3 separate regions of the Homo sapiens genome follow, and regions 1 and 3 are each linked to region 2. Evidence: fine-mapped expression QTL. A gene starts in region 2. Each other region holds a variant in brackets. All regions are shown on one strand. Distances are between the middles of the regions. Region 1 overlaps LOC149684 (a long non-coding RNA gene). Region 2 holds the start of BPI (bactericidal permeability increasing protein). Region 3 holds the start of LBP (lipopolysaccharide binding protein).

The links. PIP is the estimated chance that this variant, and not a neighbour inherited with it, causes the effect.
Region 1: its variant is the best candidate, but not a certain one, in a credible set for the expression of BPI in prostate (GTEx, PIP 0.64).
Region 3: its variant is the best candidate, but not a certain one, in a credible set for the expression of BPI in whole blood (TOPMed, PIP 0.62).

The regions. Positions count from the first base shown.
Region 1 is chr20:38,277,028-38,284,493 of GRCh38, reverse strand. The region is part of intron 1 of LOC149684 (a long non-coding RNA gene); the gene reads right to left. Among named protein-coding and RNA genes, the nearest start is that of KIAA1755, 20 kb to the right of the region's middle. RefSeq lists a silencer at 4,227-4,336. The variant G/C (reference allele first, on the strand shown) is at 3,021.
Region 2 is chr20:38,299,887-38,307,352 of GRCh38, reverse strand. It overlaps BPI (bactericidal permeability increasing protein), which reads right to left and starts at 3,197. Exons shown (of 15, transcript NM_001725.3): 1 at 3,000-3,197. The coding sequence starts at 3,129.
Region 3 is chr20:38,339,081-38,346,546 of GRCh38, reverse strand. LBP (lipopolysaccharide binding protein) reads right to left here and starts at 65. Exons shown (of 15, transcript NM_004139.5): 1 at 1-65. The coding sequence starts at 30. RefSeq lists enhancers at 2,012-2,789, 3,570-4,346. The variant C/G (reference allele first, on the strand shown) is at 3,369.

The DNA of each region.
Region 1 (7,466 bases), 23 kb after region 2:
CTTCCCAGGCCCAGGTGATCATCCCATCTCAGCCTCCTGAGTAGCTGGGGCTACAGGCATGTGCCACCACGCCTAGCAAATTTTTGTATGTTTTGTAGAGACGGGGTTTCGTCATGTTGCCCAGACTGGTCTTGAACGCCTGGGCTCAAATGATTTGCCTGCCTTGGCCTCCCAGAGTGTTGGGATTACAGGTATGAGCCACCGTGCCTGGCATTTTTAAATTTTTACTTTTAGAGATAGGGTCACATTCTGTCACTCAGGCTAGAGTGCAGTGGTGCGATCATAGCTTACTGTAACCTCAAACCCCTGGGCTCAAGCGATCCTCCCACCTCAGCCTCCTGAGTAGCTGGGACTACAGACACATGCCAACCTTGCAGATAGATCCACATCAGTCTGTTGAGAGCAGTGTCATTCTGTTTACTGCCTGCCAACATTCCAGGGACATATTTTCGTCCTTGATTTAGTAGGTCTGGGGACAACTTTAACATTGCCTGTCTCTTTCCCACTGAAGCATCCTTTGGCACTCCCCTCATTCTCCTTGGGGCCTAGACAACTCCTTGGTTCCCTTCCTTGTGAGCTTCTATTCCATCTTTTAACCCTGGGGGTTTCCTGGGTTCTGGGGTTCTGTCCTGGGCCCCCTTATCTCCCAGTTCAATAGTCATGAGCCAAGGCAAATGACAAGTGGGTCAGGCAGTACTCCCAACCCCCCATCATGATGACAACTCCTCAACCTCCTCTCCAGCTCAGATCTCTCTGGAGCCCCAGATCATCATCCCTGAGAAGGGATGTCCCATAGGAGCCTCAGGCTCAGGCGTTCAAAACTAAATGTGTCTTTTCCCCAGCCTTGCTCATCCCTGCTTGCCTCTGTCTAAGAGGTGGGCCTGCCTTCCTCCCATGACCTGCCATCACCCTGACCAACCCAGCAACAGCAACCAGCCTAGCCCTATGGGTTTGCCCCTTTGCTAGTTAGTTCAGCACCCCATTTCTCCTCCTCAGCCCCCCATGCCCTCCGTCCACCATCCAGGCCACCATCACTTCCAGCCCGGTCCATGTAACAGATGCCTCACTGGCCCTCCTGCTGCCACCTGGTCCATTCTCCACATGGAAGTCAGAGGAACTTGAAAATCTAACCTGGGGCATGCCCCCACCTCTCTGTTTAAACCTTTTGCTGGCATGGGGCCAAGGGAGAGCCCCCTAAAGGTTCTCTGAAAAATCACCTTGCAAAAGGCACATTAACTGGAGAAAAGGTACACAAATGTATTTAATGTGTATTCACGGGAGTCTTTAGAATGAAGACCCAAAGATACAGAGGAAATTGTTCATTTTTATGCTTAGGTTCCATGAAGTATAAACAGCCATGTAGAAATACGACTGGACAAAAAGGTCTGATCGAATGCTGATAGAATGAGTGGGAACCCAGCATGACCCGCCTATCTAGATTATTCTTGGCCTCTCTGAGCAGTGCTCCTTCCTTCTGGGGATGGGGCAGGACCTTTTCTGGAATGGGGGGTCTTATGACCTACAGTCAAAGGAAAGATCATTTCTTTATGGCCAGTTTTTATACAGAAAGTTGGAGGGAAAATTAGAGTAGTATTTTTAGGTTTTATGACTAGCTTTGGGGAGAAGAGGTTCTGGTTTCTATAGCACATGCTAGTTTCTATGGCTAGCCTTCAGGAATAGGACTGAGAGCTAGGAGGGCAGGAGGGGGTCAGAGAAGAAACTCACTTCTGAGGCCTTCATTTTGGGGTATTGTTTTCTAAGTCTGATATGGTTTGGCCGTGTCCCCCCCAAAATCTCATCTTGAATTATAATCCTCATAATCCCCAAGTGTCAAAGGGGGGACCAGGTGGAGGGTTCCCCCATGCTGTTCTCATGACAGTGAGTGAGTCTCACGAGATCTGATGGTTTTATAAGGGGCTCTTCCCCCTTTGCTTGGCACTCACTCCATCTTGCCACCCTGTGAAGAAAGTGCCTGCTTCTCTTTTGCCCTCCACCATGACTGTAAGTTTCCTGAGGCCTACCCAGCAATGTGGAACTGTGAGCCAATTTAAATCTCATTCCTTTATAAATTACCCAGTCTTGGATATTTCTTCACAGCAGTGTGAGAACAGACTAATACGGTAAATTGGTACCAAGAGTGGGGCACTGCTATAAAGATACTAAAAAATGTGGAATTGACTTTTGAACTGGGTAACAGGCAGAGGTTGGAACAGTTTGGAGGGCTTAGAAGAAGACAGGAAGATATGGGAAAGTTTGGAACTATCTAGAGACTTGTTGAGTGGCTTTGACCAAAATGCTGATAGTGATATGGACAATGAAGTCCAGGCTGAGGTGGTCTCAGATGGAGATGAGGAACTTTTTGGGAAATGGAGTAAAGGTCACTCTTGCTATGCTTTAGCAAAGAGACTGGTGGCATTTTGCCCCTGCCCTAGAGACCTGTGGAACTTTGAACTTCAAAGAGATGATTTAGAGTATCTGACAGAAGAAATTTCTAAGTGGCAAAGCATTCAAAAGAATGCAGAGCATAAAAGTTTGGAAAATTTGCAGACTGAGGATGCAATAGAAAAAGAAAAATCCATTTTCTGGGGAGAAATTTAAGCCTACGGCAGAAATTTGCATAAGTAACCTGGAGCCAAATGTTAATCACCAAGACAATGGGGAAAATGTCTCCAGGGCATGTCAGAGACCTTCATGGCAGCCACTCTCATCACAGGTCCCAAGGCCTAGGGGGGAAAACGGTTTTGTGGGCTGGGCCCAGGCCCCCGCTGCTCTGTGAAGCCTTGAGGCATGGTGCGTCCCTGCTTCCCAGCTGCTTCAGTTCCAGTCGTGGCTAAAATGGGCCAAGTTACCACTCACGCCATTGCTTCAGAGGCTGAAAGCCCCAAGCTTTGGTGGCTTCCATGTAGTGTTGAGCCTGTGGGTACACAGAAGTCAAGAATTGAGGTTTGGGAGCCTCTGCCTAGATTTCAGAGGAAGTATGGAAATGCCTGGATGTCCAGGCAGAAGTCTGCTGCAGGGTT[G/C]GAACCCTCATGGAGAGCCTCTGCTAGGGCAGTGTGGAAGGGAAATGTGGGGTTGGAGCCCCTACATAGAGTTCCCACTAGGGCACCACCTAGTGGAGCTGTGAGAAGAGGGCCACTGTCCTCCAGATCCTAGAATGGTAGATCCACTGACAGCTTGCACCATGCACATGGAAAAGCCACAGGCACTCAATGACAGTCAACTAAAGCAGCTGAGAAGGGGGCTGTACCTTCTGAAGCCACAGGGGCAGAGCTGCCCAAGGCTTTGGAAGCCCACCCCTTGCATCAGTATGACCTAGATGTGAGACATGGAGTCAAAGGAGATCATTTTGGTTTACTTAAAGTTTACATAGTAAACTTTAAGGTTTAATGACTACCCTATTGGATTTCAGACTTGTATGGGGCCTGTAGCCCCTCTTTTTGGCCGATTTCTCCCATTTGGAATGGGTGTATTTGCCCAATGCCTGGACCCCCATTGTATCTAGGAAGTAACTAACTTGGTTTTGATTTTACAGGCTCATAGGCAGAAGGGCCTTGCCTTGTCTCAGATGAGACTTTGGACTTGGACTTTTGGGTTAATGCTGGAATGAATTAAGACTTTGGGGGACTGTTGGGAAGACACGATTGTGCTTTGAAATGTGAGGATATAAAATTTGGAAGGGGCCAGGGGTAGAATGATATGGTTTGGCTGTGTCCCTACCCAAAATTTCATCTTGAATTATAATCCCCATAATACCCATATTTCAAGAGCAGGACCAGGTGGAGGTAATTGGATCATGCAGGCAGTTTCCCCCATGCTGTTCTTGTGATAGTGAGTGTGTGCCTGATGGTTTTATAAGGGGGCTCTTCCCGCTTCGCTTGGCACTCACTTCATCCTGTCACCCTGTAAAGAAGGTGCCTGCTTCTCCTTTGCCTTCCACCATGATTGTAAATTTCCTGAGTCCTCTCCAGCAATGTAAAACTATGAGTTAATAAACCTCTTTCTTGTATAAATTACCAGTCTCAGGTATTTCTACTTCTTCTTCTTCTTCTTTTTTTTTTTTTTGAGATGGAGTCTTGCTCTATCACCAGGCTGGAGTGCAGTGGCACGATCTCAGCTCACTGTAACCTCCTTCCAGGTTCAAGCGATTCTTCTGCCTCAGCCTCTCAAGTAGCTGGGATTACAGGCCTGTGACATGATGCCTGGCTAATTTTTGTATTTTTAGTAGAGATGGGGTTTTGCCACGTTGGCCAGGCTTGTCTTGAACTTCTGACCTCAAGTGATCTGCCTGCCTTGGCCTCCCGAAGTGCTAGGATTACAGACATGAGTCACTGCACCCAGCTGGGGATTTTTTTATAGCAGTGTGAGAATGGACTAACACAAAGCCCCAACACTGGCTTCTTATACTTTACTAGAAGAAGAGGAAAGTGACTTCTTAGCATGTCATGTAAGGTCCTTTTTTGAACTGGCTCCTGCCAACCTTCTCCAGCCTCACCTTGCTCAGGCCTCAGGACCTTTGTGCTCACTGCTCCCTCCTCCTTGAACATGCTTTACCCAAATGCTTCGCCACTCACTACCTTGCCTCCTTCAGGTCTCCGCTAAGGATGTGTTCATCAAGACGCCTTTTCTGGCTACCTGTCATGAAATAGGAGCCCCTTACTCTGCATTATTTCCCCCCTCAGCACTTACCTCCTCATGAATATTATGCCTTGGTTTGCTTATTGGTTTGGTTTTTTTCTTGTCTTTCCCCTAGAATGGAAGAGCCATGAGGGCAGGGGCTTTGTGTACATTTGCTCATGGTGCCTAAACCCAGTGCCTGAATAGGGCCCTGCATATAGTAAGCACTCAGCAGGTGCAATAAACTTCTTGCCTCTTCCTGCCACACAAATCTGGGCTCCTGCAACACTGAACTGCTTTTTGCTGCCCACCCACACCGCTCTTACCTCCAAACCTCTGCTCATGCTGATCCTCCTGCCTGGAGGGTCCTTCCTCCTTTGTTTTTCAAATTTTCATTTAATTAAAAAAATTATTTGTACACATATTTTCCAGAGATGGAGTCTCACTCTGTTGCCCAGGCTGAAGTGCAGTGGCACAATCATAGCTCACTGAAGCCTCAACCACCTAGACTCAAGCCATCCTCCCACCTCAGCCTTCCAAGTAGCTAGGTGCACACCACCATGCCCAGCTAATTTTGTATTTTCTGTAGAGATGACGTCTTGCTTCTCTGGTCTCAAACAAACAAGTTCAACCAACTCCTTCCTCAGGCTGGTTTCAAACTTCTGGCCTCCCAAACAACCTTCAGCCTCAGCCTCCCAAAGTACTGAGATTATAGGCATGAGCCACAGTGCCTGGCCATTTGCATAGATATATTCTATGGCTCCTTTAGGATTCTGCTTGTGTTATCAGCTCCCCTAGGCATCCCTCCCTGACCACTTCCCCTCTGCCTGGTCAAGTACCCTTCCTGGGCTCCTGTGGTATCTCAGACATCTCAATTGCAGTACTTGTCACTGCACTTTTGAAGGATGTTTGTTGTATACATGCTTGCTTATTGTGAGCATCTTGTGAGCCAACTCCCGCCCTGCTAAACCCTTGGCAAAGGGCCGGAAGTAGTCAATGCTGAGTGAATGTTTTTATGAATGAATGAATGAATGAATGAATGAATGAATGGAGTTAGCTTAGGTTTAGCCATAGGTCTTATTCAGTGACCCTGAGCAATCTCTGTCCCTCTCTGGGCCCCAGTTTTTCTCAATCTGTATAGTCAAGCTGGGTCTAACTAACCATCTGTGTTTATTAACACTGCAATTCTGCTCCTAGCCCCTGGGGTTCTAATCCTATTGGGGGAGGCAGATGTCTGCCTGGATTGCACCCCCATGGATCATTCTGATGTTTCAACAGCTAGATCCATGAAGACCCATTCCCACTCCGCAGACCCGAGACTCTGCTTTATAAGAAACCAGGTGAAAGCAGCACGTGTAGGCTCCTGGAGGACAGTCTTGGAGGACTCCCTGGGATGGGGGAACACAGGCAGGAAAAAAAGTGACCGCCTCCAGCTTACCCCCTCCCCTATCAGGGCTGCGGACTGAAACGGGGAAGAAAAACAAGCACAGCTGCACAGGACAATTTAGCCCTTTCACCATGACTTAAGCTCCCAGCCGCCTGTTGCGTGAGGCCGCAACATGACCCCGGCCCCCTCCGTGGCGCCACCGCCATAGCATCTGCCCAGTTTTGTTCATACCGTAAGGAAGAGGCCTGGGGTGTCCTTGGGTAGCCCCAGAGCTCTGAAGTGGGGCCATAGAGGGAAAGGGGCCGTCCCTGTGGGAAAAGAGGGAGAGGAAGCTAGAATGTCGGGGAGGGAGACATCTCAGTGCTGAGAATCCAGGGATGGGAGGAAGCTGAGCTAAGCTGTGGCTATTTGGGGTGTGTGTGGTTTGGGGAGCCCCTCTACTATTTTTTTTTTTTTTTGCAGCTGGACCACTGTAAGGGGATGTGGGCAAATTGTACAAGCCCTCAGGGTCCCCCTTACCTTCTCTGTGAAATAGGTGTGGTAACTCTGTTGATGCTGTGAAGAGGCCAGTCAGGTATTTGCCCCTCCCAGCATGCTGTGTGGCCCTGGAGAAGACAGTTACTCTCTCCCTGAGGACATCTTTGCAAGGCAGGTGGGGGCAGAATAGAGATGTCTAAGGCAGCCTGTATCTGAAGCGCCCCATCCTTACACAGCATATCAAGAGTATGTAGCATTAACACAATTTATTACTGTTGATATTGGCCTTGATCACCTGGCCGAGGTCATATTTGTCAGATTTCTCCACGGTAAAGTTACTCTTTCTCCTCTTTCCCATACTGTAACTTTTGGAAGGAAGTCACTATGTGCAGTCCACACTTTAGGAGTGGAAGTTATTTATTTATGCTGTGTCTTCTTGGGGGTGAAGTATCTACATAAACTATTTGGAATTCTTCTGCACAGGAAATTTGCCTAATCTCTCACACTTACAGCCATGTGCTGCATAATAACACTTCGGTCAACAACGATGGTGGTCCCGTAAGATTATAATGGAGCTGAGAAATTCCCATTGCCTAGACCTTCCGGTAGGACAAGATGTGGAGGTGATAGGTAGTGGTACTGATGATCATGATCCAGTGTAGGCCTAGGCTAATATGTGTGTTTGCATTTTTTTTTTTTTTGACATGGAGTTTTGCTCTTGTCGCCCAGGCTGGAGTGCAGTGGTACAATCTCGGCTCACTGCAACCTTCGCCTCCTGGGTTCAAGCGACTCTCCTGCCTCAGCCTCCCAAGCAGCTGGGATTACAGGCCTGTGCCACCACACCTGGCTAATTTTTGTATTTTTAGTAGAGATGGAGTTTCCCCATGTTGGCCAGGCTGGTCTTGAACTCCTGACCTCAGGTAATCCACCAGCCTTGGCCTCCCAAAGTGCTGGGATTACAGGTGTGAGCCACCGCACCCGGCCTGTG
Region 2 (7,466 bases):
CTCTGCCATTACTGCACAAAACAGCCATAGACAATATCATGTTCTTATATGTGCCTGTATTCCAATAACACTTTATTTGTTGGCATTGAAATGAGAATTTCATATAATTTTCACATGTTGTGAGATAGTATTTTTCTTCTTTTGTTGTTGTTTTGAGACAGGGTCTCGCTGTGTCGCCCAGGCTGGAGTGCAGAGGCATGATCACGGCTCACTGCAACCTCGACCCGCTGCACTTAGGTCATTCTCCCACCTCAGCCTCCCTAGCAGCTGGGATCACAGGTGTTCGCCACCACACCAGGCTAACTTTTTAAAAATTTTTTTTTAACATTTTTGCAGAGATCTGGGGTTTCACCATGTTGCCCAGCTGGTTTCGAACTCCTGGGCTCAAGTGATCCTCTCACCTCAGCCTCCCAAAGTGCTGGAGTTACAGGCATGAGCCACCATGACCGGCCCTTTTGATTTTTTTCCCATCATTTAAAGACATTAAGGCCATTTTTGTCTTATAAGCCATACAAAAACGGAGGGCTGTAGTTTGCTGACCCCTGGTCTAAAATATCACCCCTGAAACACCCAGTTATGCCTCCTGCTAGTTTTTGTTGGATACTTAATTTGTTATTTGCTCTATGCTACACCCCCACAGATCTCCCACCTCTCTGGGTTTTGGACTGTCTCCCCAGGGCCTTTGCACATGCTATTCTTGCTCCCTAAGAAATTCTTCCCTCCCATATTCACCCGGTCAGCTTCTAGTCAGCTCATTCATCACTTCCTCTGGGAACCCTCCCTGGCTTAGTAGATCAGAGCAACGCCCTGTGTTATTCTCATGATGCTGTGGACTGCTCTTTCGGAGCCCCTGTTACCATTTGTAATTATGCATTTATTCACGTGACTCTGACGAATGTCTCTCCCCTATTACATGTAAGCCCCCTGAAGTCAGCAGCAATCTGTTTTATTTACTCGTGTGTCCCTTACATTCCCATTGTGCCTGACACTTTGAAGGCACTTAAGATTTGTTAGATGAGGCTGGGTGCGGTGGCTCACGCCTGTAATCCCAGCACTTTGGAAAGCCAAGGCAAGTGGATCACTTTAGGTCAAGAGTTCAAGAGTTCAGCCTGGCCAACATGGTGAAACCCCGTCTCTACTAAAAATACAAAAAATTAGCTGGGTGTGATGGTGCACGCCTGTAATCCCAGCTACTTGGGAGGTTGAGGCAGGAGAATCACTTGAACCCCGGAGGCAGAGGTTGCAGTGAGCTGAGATGGCACCATTGCACTCCAGCCTGGGCCACAGAGCGAGACTCGGTCTCAAAACAAAACAAAAAAAGATTTATTAGATGAATAAATAATGTCCTAATGGCAGGAATTCTACCACCAGTTATAATGTGGCTAACAGCATCAAAGAACCAATTAAAAGGCAGACACATTACCTGAAAAGGAGTAAGTAGTAAGATGAGGGAGCCCAGACTTTGGGTTTTCTCGGAGCCAGTTAGGAAATAATAATATCAATGAAATGTATCGAGCTTTACTCTGTGCCAAGCACTGTTCTAGGCTCCGTATATGTATGAATTTGTACAATCCTAGGAAGTAGGTCCTGTCACTACCCCCATTTCACAGATAAGGAAGCTGAGGCTCAGAAAGCTGAGGTGACTTGCTAGGGGCCACACAGCGGACAAGGGGCAGAATTTGAACCCAGGCCTTCTGGTCCCAGAGCCCATGCCCTAGAGAAGGCTTTCTGGGGGTTCAAAAGTAAATGACACATAACTGGTCACTGTGTGGAGGGAAAAAAAAATGTGCAGTGGCCAGGATCTGTAAGTTGACAGGGGCCAGGCCTCGAAGGGTCTCAAATGCCATGCCAAAGGGTCAGGATAGCTTCTGAAGGCAGTAGGGAGCCATGGAGAATGTGAGCCAGGGGAGGATGTGTAGGGATTTGCTGCATTTCAGAAAACTCACTCCGATTGGCACAAGGGGCCTGGGTAGAAGGGGAAACTCAGGCTGCTATGACGGAGCATGAAGACCACTGAACTTAAAGACCCTGACTGAGCCTCTGTGTCGACAGGCTTCAGGGCCATACTCCTTCCCCCTAGCTCTTCTGTCTTCTGTGGCCTTCTGTCTGCAGCTCTAGGATTCAGTGATGTCCTGCTGGGCTGGGGTGGGAATTCAGGGGTGGGATACCAGGTCCCCTGAGTCCTGTCTGTTTTCCCAACGCACCCCAACTGGTGAGGCTCTGCCTTCCCCTTGGTCTGATTTCCCTGGGGCTGGGTGTCACCCACTGTTTTGCAGGTCATCTCTCTGCCATCGGGAGGCAGCATCGAGCAACCCCGTGCTGGGGCATCAGGCAAGACCAGAGCTCAAATCCAGGCTGCCCACTTCTCACGTGTAAATGTGGATAGCAGCAGTTTGTCTTACACAAGGCTGAAGTGAGGGTAAAAGAGACTGTGTGTGTAAAGTTCCTAGCTCAATGCCTGGCACAGGTTAGAGCAGGTCTTTCTCTCCTCTGCCTGGGCTGGGGTGAGTGGTCTGGGGGGACCCTCTTTGTGTCACCCAGTGGAGCACTGTGCACAGTATGGCCGCCAGCCCCTGCAGTGGGGAGAGCACGGGGTGGGGAGGTCCTCCCACACTCTCCCTCTGACCCTGCTCAGCCTCCTCAGCAACGAGAGGCAAATGGCAAGGCTGAGAACTGGCTTTGGAAAGAAGAGAAGGGCTTATAAGTCAAAGGTGGAGGTTACATAGAGGGAAGGAGGGGACCATGAGGACCCTCAGGGGTCTGAGCACTGGACTTGGAGTCCTCTAGACCAGTGCTCCAATCCCAGCTCTGCCATCCCAGCCCTGCAATCTTAGGCAACTCGCTTTGCCTCAGTTTCTTCATATATAAAATGGGGGCAAGGGGACCTGCCCTGAGGTGCTATGAGTGTGCCAGGTGCTGGATCTAAAGGGGTGCACACAGTAGATGCTAAGTAAGTGCTCCTCAGGGGTGGAGAGGAGGGAAGGGAGGCATCCAGTTACCGTAGTCCAGGCCCTTCTGGGAGATCCTGACCACGACGCCAGGGTTGACGGCCGCTGTCACGGCGGTGCCTATGGCGACCAGCACCATCAGGGACGCCCATCTCGGCGCGTTGCAAGGGCCCCTGGCCATGTTCTCTCTCATCCTCCAGAGCTGCCAAAACCTCAAGGCCTTGAGGTTGAACCAGGGAGCTATAAAAGAGTCGGCTGGGGAAATGCAAGTCAGTAGAATGTGGAAAGGAGGAAGGAACCTGGTGAGGGTGGGAAAGAGGGAGGGCCGCTGTGGTTTTCCATTGTGGTTAGGGCCCCACAGGCAGGGAGAAGTGCAGCCTGGGAGGCTCGCATGTCCATGTATGCATGCGTGTGTGTGCGCGGGCGTGCGTGTGTGTATGTGTGTGTGTAGATTGGTTCCCCTCCCTAGGCACCCCATTCCCCGCTCTGTGTCCCCACCCAAATGCCCCCATCTACAGACTCCCTTGAAGGTGGGTGGCACAGACATAAGGATTCATATTTTTCTTTCTACTTTTGATTTCTTTTGTATTTTTGATAGTAAAACATTTAAGAAAACAGATGCTTTCGTGTTTTCTTGTCCTGAGAGGCAGTAGTGGTAATGATTCAATGCTCACATTTTAGAGTCTAGTATCTTGGCTATGGTTTTAAATCTTAGCCCTGTCATTCTCTAGTGGTCCGACCTCAGGCAAGCCCTTTAACCTCTCTGAACCTCGGTTTTCTCTTCTGCAGAAGAGAAATACATAGTACTGCTCCCTCTCTGGATTGTGGAGAAGATAAAATGAGCTTAAAACCACGTAAAGCATTTAGCATACTGCCCGTGCAAAATAAATATCCAAATGCTAGCTATTAATGTTATCCTGATTTTAAAAGTAACCCATGTTTATTGGCCAAAATTTGAGAAAGAAACAAGAGAATACAAATTACATATAACTCCCTCTTCCGGAGACAAGCCAAAGTGTATTTTAGAGTATTTCTTTTCTCCCTCTTTTGTTGGTAAGCATAGGTAGAGAGTCCATGTTTGTTTGTTAACCAATATGGGATCACCTGGTCAGTTTGGTAAAGTTCCCTTTTTTCGAGAAACAATAGGTAGCAAATGTTCTTCTCCAGCATTAAATATTTCATTGCTTCCTCATCCCACAGCTTTCTTATCCAAGCTTCTGTTTTTGTACATTTTTACTCCTTCCTTTGGCAGATGTAGAACCTGAGGCTTCACCAGGGGAAGCGTTCTTCCCACGGTCACTCAGCAAGCTGCTAGCAGAGCGAGGATCAAAACACAGCCCTCCAGATGCATCCCACACCAGCCCGAATCCCTCAGCGCCTTGGGAGTTGGGGGGATGTAGACACTCCCCACCGCCAACCCAGCTTTCCAGACAGGTCCCTGTCTGCTCAGCCCCTGCCCCTCCCTCTGCAGCAGCCTCAGGCCTCGGGTGGGCAGGAACCCCACTGGGCAGCCTGCTCCGTCTCCATGGTGATGAGAGGAGGGGCGGGGCTGCAGAAGGGGCAGCCAGCTTCTCTCCCGCTGGGTCCTCATCAGCCCCCTAGTGCCCTGTCTCCCCGACTTTGGACTTTATGAAAGTCTAATGAAGTCCGCTGAGCTCGGAGGACGTGAGACCTTCTGAAGTTTTCTTCTTTTTTTCTTAAAAGTTTTTTTCTTCCTCTCTTCGTTTGGTTCTAAAAGAGTCTCCCCTCCTGCTTCCATCTGCAGCAACTAGAATTCTTCTGGCTTGCTTCAGAATGAAAGCAGTGGCCGTGTGTGAAGCATCCACTGTGTGCCAGATGCTTCATATGCATCATCTCCAAGCCAAAAAACAACCCTGAGAGAGGGATGATTCTTCCCCATTTTGTTTTATTATTATTATTATTATTATTATTATTATTATTATTGAGATGAGGTCTTACTATGTTGTCCAGGCTGGTCTTGAACTCCTGAGCTCAAGCAATCCTCCTGCCTCAGCCTCTCAAAGTGTTGGGATTAAGGCCGAGCCACACCGTGCCTGACCTCTTCACCATTTTGGAAACAAGGAAACTGAGATGCAGCGATCACATCACTGTCATGGTCATTCCTCCTTTCACGCAGAGAAGATTTTCCCTTACCTGAGGCAGGTGCCAGGAGGACTCATGACTGTAGGCCCTCACCCCAGCTCTCCCTTTTTCCAAGTGATTTGAGCCCCCAGACTCAGATGTCTGCATCTGTACCAGGAAGATTGCTCTAAGTAGCAGCCAGAACACATAGATTGATGACTTGTCACAAAAATTAGATTTTTGAAAAATTATCTTGCACATTTTTGAACACTTCCAGCTCTTAGTTGCTCGAAGTTCCTGAGTTCCCCAAGGCCCAGGTAGATGTGGTATCCGTGAGGGTGTCAGCTAGGAAAGGAACATTAAGATGAAATCACATGACAATGACCTACATTGCTATAAAATTAGAATCTTAAAACCAGCTGACGGCCGGGGGTGGTGGCTCACACCTGTAATCCCAGCACTTTGGGAAGCCAAGGCAGGTGGATCACTTGAGGCCAGGAGTTCGAGACCAGGCAGGCCAACATGGTGAAACCCTGTCTCTACTAAAAATACAAAAATTAGCCAGGCATGGTGGTGTTCACCTGTAATCCCAGCTACTCAGGAGGCCAAGGCATGAGACTCTCTTGAACCCATGAGGCAGAAGTTGCAGTGAGTCAAGATCACACCATTGCACTCAAGCCTGGATGGTAGAACAAGACTCTGTCCCCCCACAACCTCCCACCAAAAAAAAAAAAAAACCCAGCTGGCAAGTTTCTGAACAAGCAACCCCACTGGCTTCCCCGATGTCTCATGCCCAGCCACATCTAGATGAGCCACATCAGTGACTTTCCACAGTCTCCTTGTCAGCACTGCTGCTGGCCATGGGGCTGCCCCACTGCTTCAGATCTGACCCCGTATCCTGTATCAGTAACAGTGTCTTCAACCCAAGTATCAGAAACCATCAACTCACATTGCTTCAACGATAAACAAATTTATTATGGCAGAGAGGAAGTCCAGAGGGAGGAGGACAGGTTTGAGATTCTGATTGATTCAGCAACTGACCGACATCTGCAGGATCATCTTTCCATCTCTCTGCTCTCCCATCCCCGTGTCTCAGATTTGCTCTTACACTGGCTTCTTTCATGGTTGCAAGATGGCCGCAGCAGCTCCAGCCATCCCATCTAAACAGACTTTCCCCAAATATCCTTTTCCTCTTCCTCCTCCTCCTGCTTTTTGTTTTTTTCTTTTCCCTAAAATTATTATAAAATATTTCAAACCTAAGAAAAGAATAGACCACATAGGTTTATAAAACCTTAACATTCTGCCATATTTGCTTCCTAGAGTTCCTTTTAGTTCTAGGAATTTTGATACATGTATAGCTATGTGTTGTAACCAGGACCACAATCAGGATATAGAAGAATCCTGTCATCCCCCAAAACTCTTCTCCTGCTATTTCAATTTGATGCAGCTTAAATCATAGGGAAAATATATTCTTCTCAGTAGAAATTCACAGATGGGGTGGATCAAGAGTTGGTCAGTTCAAGGGCTGGATCTGTCTATTTTCCTGCTCTTCCGTCCTTAGGCTGACGACTTTTTCCAGAAGAAAGTGAATTGGGTTTAGAGCCAGGCAGTCCTGGGTTCATAGTCCCAGCCATGCTACCCTATTCTGTGAGCCTGGCCAAGTTCCTCCACCTTTCTGAAATTGGGGTTCCTCATTTAAAGATGAGGAAACAGTGCTCATCATGGCAGTTGTTCCTGAGGATGAAATGAGATAATAGGTGTGAATCGATTTGCACAGAGAAGGTGCTCAGTAAATAATCGTAAGTCAACCTTCATCACTAGCTGGCTGGAGAGCCTCAGAGCCCCCAGGAAAACAAGCCAGGGGCACTGGAAACTGAGCTCTTGGCCCTCTGGCCTCTGGGTTTGGACTGGATAGGGGCAAAGATAGAGGAATCTGTGGCTTACATTGCCTCTGTGAGCCTTCCACTCCGCCAGGGGCTTGGAGGAGAAGCAGCCACTCCCTGCCTTATGTGAGCCCCCGCAGCACAGCAAGGCTGTTAAGGGCATGGTTTGGAACCTGACAAACCTGGGCCCAGATCCCAGCTCTGCCACTTCCTCGCTCTGTGACTGTGAGCTTGCTGCTTAAACTTGCTGAACCTGTTTCCTCGTTTGTCCCCACGCTCCATCCTCAGGCACAGGTCTTGCCTGGGTTTAACATGAGGTCACCTCTGTGGTCACCTGAGGCCCTGTACTCTCCCTCCCCTCAGCTCTGATTTTCTAGCCCTTTCCCTCCCTCACCCACCAGGGTCCCCCTTCCTCTGTGTGTCCGGCTTCCAGGCTATGCTGCCAGCCATTCTTTCATCCTGAGAGGGGGTTGCAGGTGAAGGAGGAGCTTGTGGTAGATGCTGGAGGGTGAAGGGGAGGAGAGAAGCAGGCCCACCTGGAGATCCAGCCTCA
Region 3 (7,466 bases), 39 kb before region 2:
GGACGGCAGGGCTCTGGCCAAGGCCCCCATCCTAGATTCCCAGTGCAGTGGGCCAGGACTGTCCCAGCTGTGGATTGGGCCCAGGTCCCTTAAGTAGCCAAGGCTCGATGGCTGGGGGCAGTTCCTGAGGCTGGATGGGTTCCTGGGAGCGGGAAGGGGAGGCACAGGGACTGGAACCTGCTTGCGACATCACTGAAGTCATAAGGTCATACTTAGAAGCCAGTTTTCACTGCCCAGATCAGTGGATGAGGAAGCCTGACTCCTATGATCATCCCTGTCCACCCTCCCCACAGAAAGACCCCATATTCATCACTGTTCATCTTGCCTCATCTCAGCCAGTCTCTTAAGAGCTCGGCTAGGAAGGCCTGGTTTAGCAGATGAGGAAACTGAGGTTCAAAAAAGCCACATAGCTCCCTTGAGATCTCACCCCCAGCAGAGGGCAGGGTTGAGAGTGAAGCTACATCTGGCACCAACCAAACTCTCTTTTTTAAAATATATTGGCTCGTTTATTTAAAAAATAAATGTTTCCCCCAATGGGAAAACAGTGTTTCTCAAACCTTGCTGGTGGTGAAATTTTCTGGAAGGCAATTGGCAAATGTTTAAACAGTTGCATGCCCTGTGACCCAGGAATTCAATTTCAGGGACTTGCCCTTAAATACATAATTGAGTCAGTGTGCCAGTAAATCACTGCTCCAAGATACCACTGCTATGCTGTGGGAAACAGGACAGGAGAAGTGAGACCCAACCTCATGTATCCACCAGAAGGGCATTGGTTAAATGAATTATGACATGCCCCTTAAAGTGAGGCTGCAGAAATAAAGGTATTTCTTGGCAAGGAAAGGGATGTCATGAGGCATCCGTTTCCGATGGCACCATAGAGTAAGGTTCTATTTTGGGGGGTTCAAAATAGGCTTCTATGTTCAACAATCTGGAAAATATTTAGCAAGGAGTCATGAGGCATTGTCTCTGGTTGTGGGGGTAGAATTATAAGTGTTAAAAAAGTTTTTGCTTGTTGATACGTACAATTTTTTTTTCTTTTTTCATTTTTTGAGACAAAGTCTACTCTGTTGCTCAAGCAGGAGTCCAGTGGCATGAACATCGCTCGCTGCAACCTCAACTTCCTGGGCTCAAGTGATCCTCCCACCACAGCCCCCTAAGTAGCTGGGACTACAGGTGTGAGCCACCATGTCCAGCTAATTTTTTGTATTTTAGTAGGGACGAGGTCTTGCTATGTTGCCCAGGCTGGTGTCGAACTCCTGAGCTCAAGTAAGCCTCCCGCTTGGCCTTCCAAAATACTGGGATTATAGACTTGGGCCACCATGCCCAGCCTCTAAAATTTTTATTTTCTTGGGGGTATGGTCCCGGGCATATATTCGCAGTAAGTAAAGATAGTAAAATTTCATTCTGGAAAACAAAATTTATAGTACAGACTGTGTTTAATTTTTAGAGTTTTGCCCCAGCCCTGCTTACATTTGTGAGTTCTGCTTTGCCCTCACCCCCAGGAAGCCTTCCCTGACCACTCCCATGCTTCTCTGGATTCTAGAAAGGGTCCCCTCTGAGGTCCCAGAACCCTTTGCGCTTTCCCCACCACAGCATTAACCACTCTGCTTTTTGATAATTGTGGTCCTTTAAAAATATGCCCACGAATTCTTTGATATTCCTTCCATCAAAAGGTAATGTTTCTGCCCCCTTCCCTTGAAATTGGGCAGGTTTTCATGATGGCCTCAACCAACTGAATGTGGTGGGATTAACAGGGTGACTCCCAATAGGTCACAAACAGCACTGGCAGGCACTGAGGTTAAGATCAGAATGTCCCACGTTAAGCACAGGGAACCCCACAGTCCAGGCCTCTCTGCTCCTCTGTACCGTGTTGCTCCTGTCACTGGGGCTGAGGTTTGTTGGGATCCTCATCCGTCCCTCCCCTCAGTCCCCACACCACCAGTCTGATGGCTCCTTGCAGGCACGGCTGAGTCTTCCATTTCCTGAGATCCTTGCAGCACCCAGCAGAAATTGGAAAGAAACTGATATTTATTGAGCACCTACTATGTGCAGGCGCTGTGCTGGTTAAGCTGCACGTCTCCTCTCATCCTTGCATCAGCAACCCCAGGTGGATATTTTAGTCTTGTCTTGAGATGAAGAAACTGAGGTTTGGCAGGGTGAAGTGATGTAGGCTGCAGTCACCCAGCAGGAATTTAAGTCCAGGTCTGCAGGATGCCATTCCAAAACTCTGGTCAGGGCAGGGTTCTCTTGGGAGGCAACAAGCTGAGCAGAGGCCTCAGGGTAAGGAGCCAGCCTTTGGGAGGCTTTGGAGCAGGAAAGGGCTCACAGGTGCATCCCCAGTGTGCCTAGGGGCCTTTGCTTCCTGGACCTCAGCCTGCCCAGGAGGGGAGGAGAGTGGGGGAGGACATTCTGGAGCATAAGGATCTTATGGGGACATAGATGTCACTCTTCCTCTGGCAGCAGTTTAAGGATGTCCCTGGCTGGGAGTCATTTGCAGGGGTGGGAATTTCCCACAGCAGCAATCTTTGGACCTTAGAGCTGCCACATGGCCCAGGCCTGGCCTCCACCCCTGCAGGTGCCCACTGCTGGCTAAGGTCCCTGCTGATGGCCCAGGACCCAGCAGAGGCCTCAGGGAGCAGCACGACCCCACTGCTGGTCAGAACCCCTGGGCCTTTCTCCTACCAGGCTGTCCATCCAATTCCACAAAAGCAACAGCTGCTACCACTCTGGCCACCACTCAGTCTTATTGCAGTGAAATAGGGACTCTTTTAACAAGGCTGTTTATTGTGTTCTTGTGCAGGAGAGGGCCCCCAGAAATGGCAGTGCATCAAATGATGGACAGGCGATCATAAAACTGTCCCTCTGACATGATAAGTGGCCACGAATGGCGCCAAGAGGGAGAGGAGTTCCCTAACAGATAGTTGACATCATCTGGAGCCAGCAAACCACAATTCCCTGGTAAGGTCGAGCAGAAGGGCAAATGTTGGAGTCTGACTTGTATATGACCTTTTTCTTGCGGCGACGGACCAGTAAGGGAAAATCACCCCAAGTGAGCATGCGCACAACCTTAGTAAACACACTGCGCATGCGGCCCCTCCCAAGTGCTGGCAGGCCATTGCGCATGCAGGGAGGGCGCAGCAGCCCACCGAAGGGAGGAATCAAGGAGGAGAAGAAACCCCAGAACCAAGCCAGTGTATAAAAGCCCCGAGCCAAAGGTTGAGCGGGGCACTTGATCTCTCAGTTGTACTTTGCTTCTTTCAATAAACCTTTGCCTCTGCTTTAAAACTTGCCTGCGTCTCTCAATTGAATTCTTTCCTCTGAGAAGACAAGGGCTGGGAGTGTTGCGGACTCGCCACCGATAATATTCT[C/G]ACTACAAAAGTGTTACTGAAAAGATTTTGAAAAACCCAGAATTTGGAATCCATAGTGTCTAGAATACTGAGCAGCAAATAGTAGATAATTGCCAAAGGAATAAACAAACCTTATGTTTATCTTTATGGACTCTGGGGCCAGATGGCCTGGATTTGAATCCTGACTCCCCCACGGGGTGACTTTGGGCACTTTGTGACTCAGTTTCCTCATCTCTACTTGGGTTCAGCCAGAGGGTGGCATGGCAGGAGGTCAGATGTCAGGGCACTTTTCCCTGCTGTCTTCTCTAGATCACAAGTGTGGCAGTTGGCTGTGTCCCTCCTGATAAGGCCTTGTCCTTGGCTCCTATTATCTCCTTGGGCTGGGATACCCAGATGCTTTTCTTTGCTGCTTGAGCCTTAGGAAAAACAGTCCCTGGTTGGTTTCCTCAAGCTTGTCCCCCAACTCTAGAAATAGCCACTTTATTCAAATCCCAAGAACCAATGCAGTTGGATTCTCTTTTCTTGCCTGAACCCTGTTGGACACAATTAGCAACACTGAGCATTTCTTCTGCACTTATTCATCTTTTGTGCAAACGCCTGCCTCTCGCAGAGAGCTTTGAATCCTTTTCCAAAGTCTTACAGGTTTTTTGTCAAGGCCCTGCTCCTAATGGGCTGGGGGACCTGGAACAAACTCCACCCCTCTCTGTTCCTCATGTTTCCCCCAAATGCAGATGAGGGCTGGGGACTAGGACAGCTTTTCAGAAACAAAGACGTGCAGTCAAGTCCCCCAGGGATCTTGTTTAGATGCAAATCTTGATCCATCATGTTCCTCTTGGGGCTGAGCCTCTGCATTTTAACAAGCTCCCTGGTGAGGGTGATGCTGCTGACCACGGATTGTGCTTGGAGCTTCGGGAACAAGGGACTAAATGAGCTCCGAGTTCCCTCCAAGCTCAGCAGTTCTCTAATGCTTCACTCTCCTTTTCGATAGTTTTCTATGACGGTGCCCACACTCCTGAGAACACTGACTCTTGAAAGAGAATGATGTTATGAATTCCTGCAGTTCTGAATCTCTGCAGGGTACTTTGGAGTTGGGAGTTTAATATTTATGGCAGCCTCTCCCCAAGCCACATCACCTGCAGATCTGAATGTGTGCCTGTGTACGCACACGCACAGACACACACACATGAGCCCTGAGACATGCGGGCTTACAAAATAAAAGTAGTAACGTCAGTGACGATCCTTTGTGGCTTGAAGGTTGCGTGTCTTGAGATACCAGGAGCCCCCATGGAGCAGGGCTGGTCATGTGGATAAACAGCTCCTCACCCCAGAGAGCCCTTACTTTTACAGATGGGGAAACTGAGACCTAGAGAGGGAGAACTGGCCCAGGTTACACTGTGAGCCTATTGCTGAACTGGAGAGGATAAATCCAGAGTTCTGGCCAGCCAGGGGCTCTGATTCTTGGGGTCAGGCCCATTCAGGCAGACAGCCCTGGATCATACATTGAGAATCACTGGCATAAATGTTTTGAGTTATGCAGATGTGGGTTGAAATCCCAGATCATTTTTAAAATAAATACTTACTGATCACCAACTATGTGGCAGGCATTGGGAATACTACTGTAGCCAGATATAGTATTTTTTTTGTTTTTTTTTTTTTGAGACAGAGTCTCACTCCATCACCCAGGCTGGATGGAGTGCAGTGGTGTGATCTCAGCACACTGCAACCTCCGCCTTCTGGGTTCAAATGATACTCGTGCGTCAGCCTCCTGAGTAGCTGGGACTACAGGTGTGTGCCACCACGCCCGGCTAATTTTTGTGTTTTTAGTGGAGACTGGGTTTCGCCATGTTGCCCAGGCTGGTCTCGAACTCCTGGGCTCAAGTGATCCACCTGCCTCAGACTTCCAAAGTGCTGGGATTACAGGTCGTGAGCCACTGCACCTGGTCAGATATAGTCTTTACAGTATAGTAAGAAGAACTGCGTTTATTCAAATTAGAGCAAACTTGGATTACTGTTGTCAACCCCTGTACCACGGATTTGACATGTATTTGATTCTCATAACAACTTTATGAGGTAGGTACTATAATGATGTTCCCTTTATAGATGAGAAATAGAAAACCTGAGAATTAAGTATACTGCCCAAAGTCACACAGCTGGTAAATAGCAGACGTGGGATTTAAACCCAAGATATCTGGGATCATGGTTCATACTCTTAACCACTGTGCCATGACCCTATCAATCATACCTCTGATTCTTCCCAATAACCTCATGCCGAGAGGGCAAGATTTTAACTCTCCTTTTCAAAGGAGGAAATAGAGGGCCAGAGAGGTTAAGGAACATTTGCAAAGTCACACAGCTCTTGAGGGGGCCGGATTTATGTTTGAAACCACCGCCAGGTGACTCCAGAGCCCAGGCTCTGAACAGTTAGCTTAGCAGGCCACACGACTTTTCTAGAGACTCCTCATCTGAAAAACAAGGGCAACCTTGGCTACCTTTAGCGGTTGTCATGAGGATTAAATAGGATCATAAGCCTGAAGAGATAGACCCAGGGACAGGGCTGCTCATGGCCACTAGCGGGACATGGCAAAATGATGAAGACAGTGCTTAGTCTTCCTGTGCCCCTCCCCACCTTCTCTCCTTGCAGAGGGTACTCCTCCCTCATATTTATTTAATAAGTCAGCATTTCCAAAAGGAACCCCAGGAAGGCTGTGCTTATCCCAGAAGGGAAGCTGCTCTGATGGTGAGCTTTTAGGCAGTTTGGAGTGAACAATTCTTTTTTTTCTTCTTCAATTGTCTTTTGCCACTTTATTGACATATATTTCATATACATAAAATTCACCCATTTAAAGTGTACAATCCAGAATTTAATTTTAGAACATTTTCAACGTCACCCAAAGAAACCCCAAACACACATTTGCAGTCATCTGCAGCAGACAATGCTTAGCCTGAAGGGAGAAGCTGCTCAAATAGTGGTTCTGTAGCCAACTTGGCAGAACCTTTGGAGTGTGTTGGGGAATGCTGCTCAAACCCTAACCCCCAAGCAACTGCCTTTCCTCAGCCATTAGAGAGAAGTTCGCAGGCACAATGTGTTTCATGCACCAATCTTCAGGTCCAAGAAAGATTTAGGTTGATGGAAAAGTAATTATTTTTTTTGGCATTAAAAGTAACGGCCAAGACTGGATTCAGTGGCTCACACTTGTAATCCCAGCACTTTGGAAGGCCAAGGTGGGTGGATCACTTGAGGTCAGGAGTTGGAGACCACTCTGGCCAACATGGAGAAACCCTGTCTATATTTAAAAATATATGTACACAAAATATTAGCCGCGCGTACTGGTGTGAGACTGTAATCCCAGATACTTGGGAGGCTGAGGCAGGAGAACGGTTTGAATCCGGGAGGCAGAGGTTGCAGTGAGCCAAGATCACACCACTGCATTCCAGCCTGGGTGACAGAGCGAGACTCTGTCTCCAAAAAAAAAAAGTAATTGCGGTTTTTGCATTAAAAGTAATGGCAAAAACCGCAATTACTTTTGCACCAACCTAATAATTGCATTTTTTTTTTTTTTTCTATAGAGTGTGGAGCAGGGGGTGCCTATATGTTACAGAAAGTAGAGGGCAGGTGTAGAAGGGGGTTAACTCCAAAGAGAATGAGGGTGGGGGATGGCAGGTGTGTGTCCATATCTACCAGCTAGTCTCCCCAGCAGCCAGAGGGCTCTTTTACAAATGTGAATTGGATTGTAACATTCTTCTGCTCAAAACTCTCCAGTGGCTTGCCTTATCTTTTGGAACAAAACCTAGAGCCCTTAACAGTCCTCATGGCCTCCCAGTCTATCCCACGCTGTGCTTCCCTTCTCTCTCTTCCTTCCGCCCTTGCTAGCTGCTCTTCTGTTCTATTCAGGGCCTCCATAGCCCCTGGCTAGTGGAGAAAAAGATGCATACTACTGGTGGACAAATTAGAGAAAGACTTTTGTTTCCTCAACCTGGTACAACCTATGTTTTACAGTGTACAACCTATGCCACAGAACAAAGAAGTTCTGCTTTAAACGTGCCAAGTCCCCCAGAACAGACAACATTTTGACATCGGGGAGGAGCAAAAAAAGCATGGGCTCTGACATGTGGGAATAG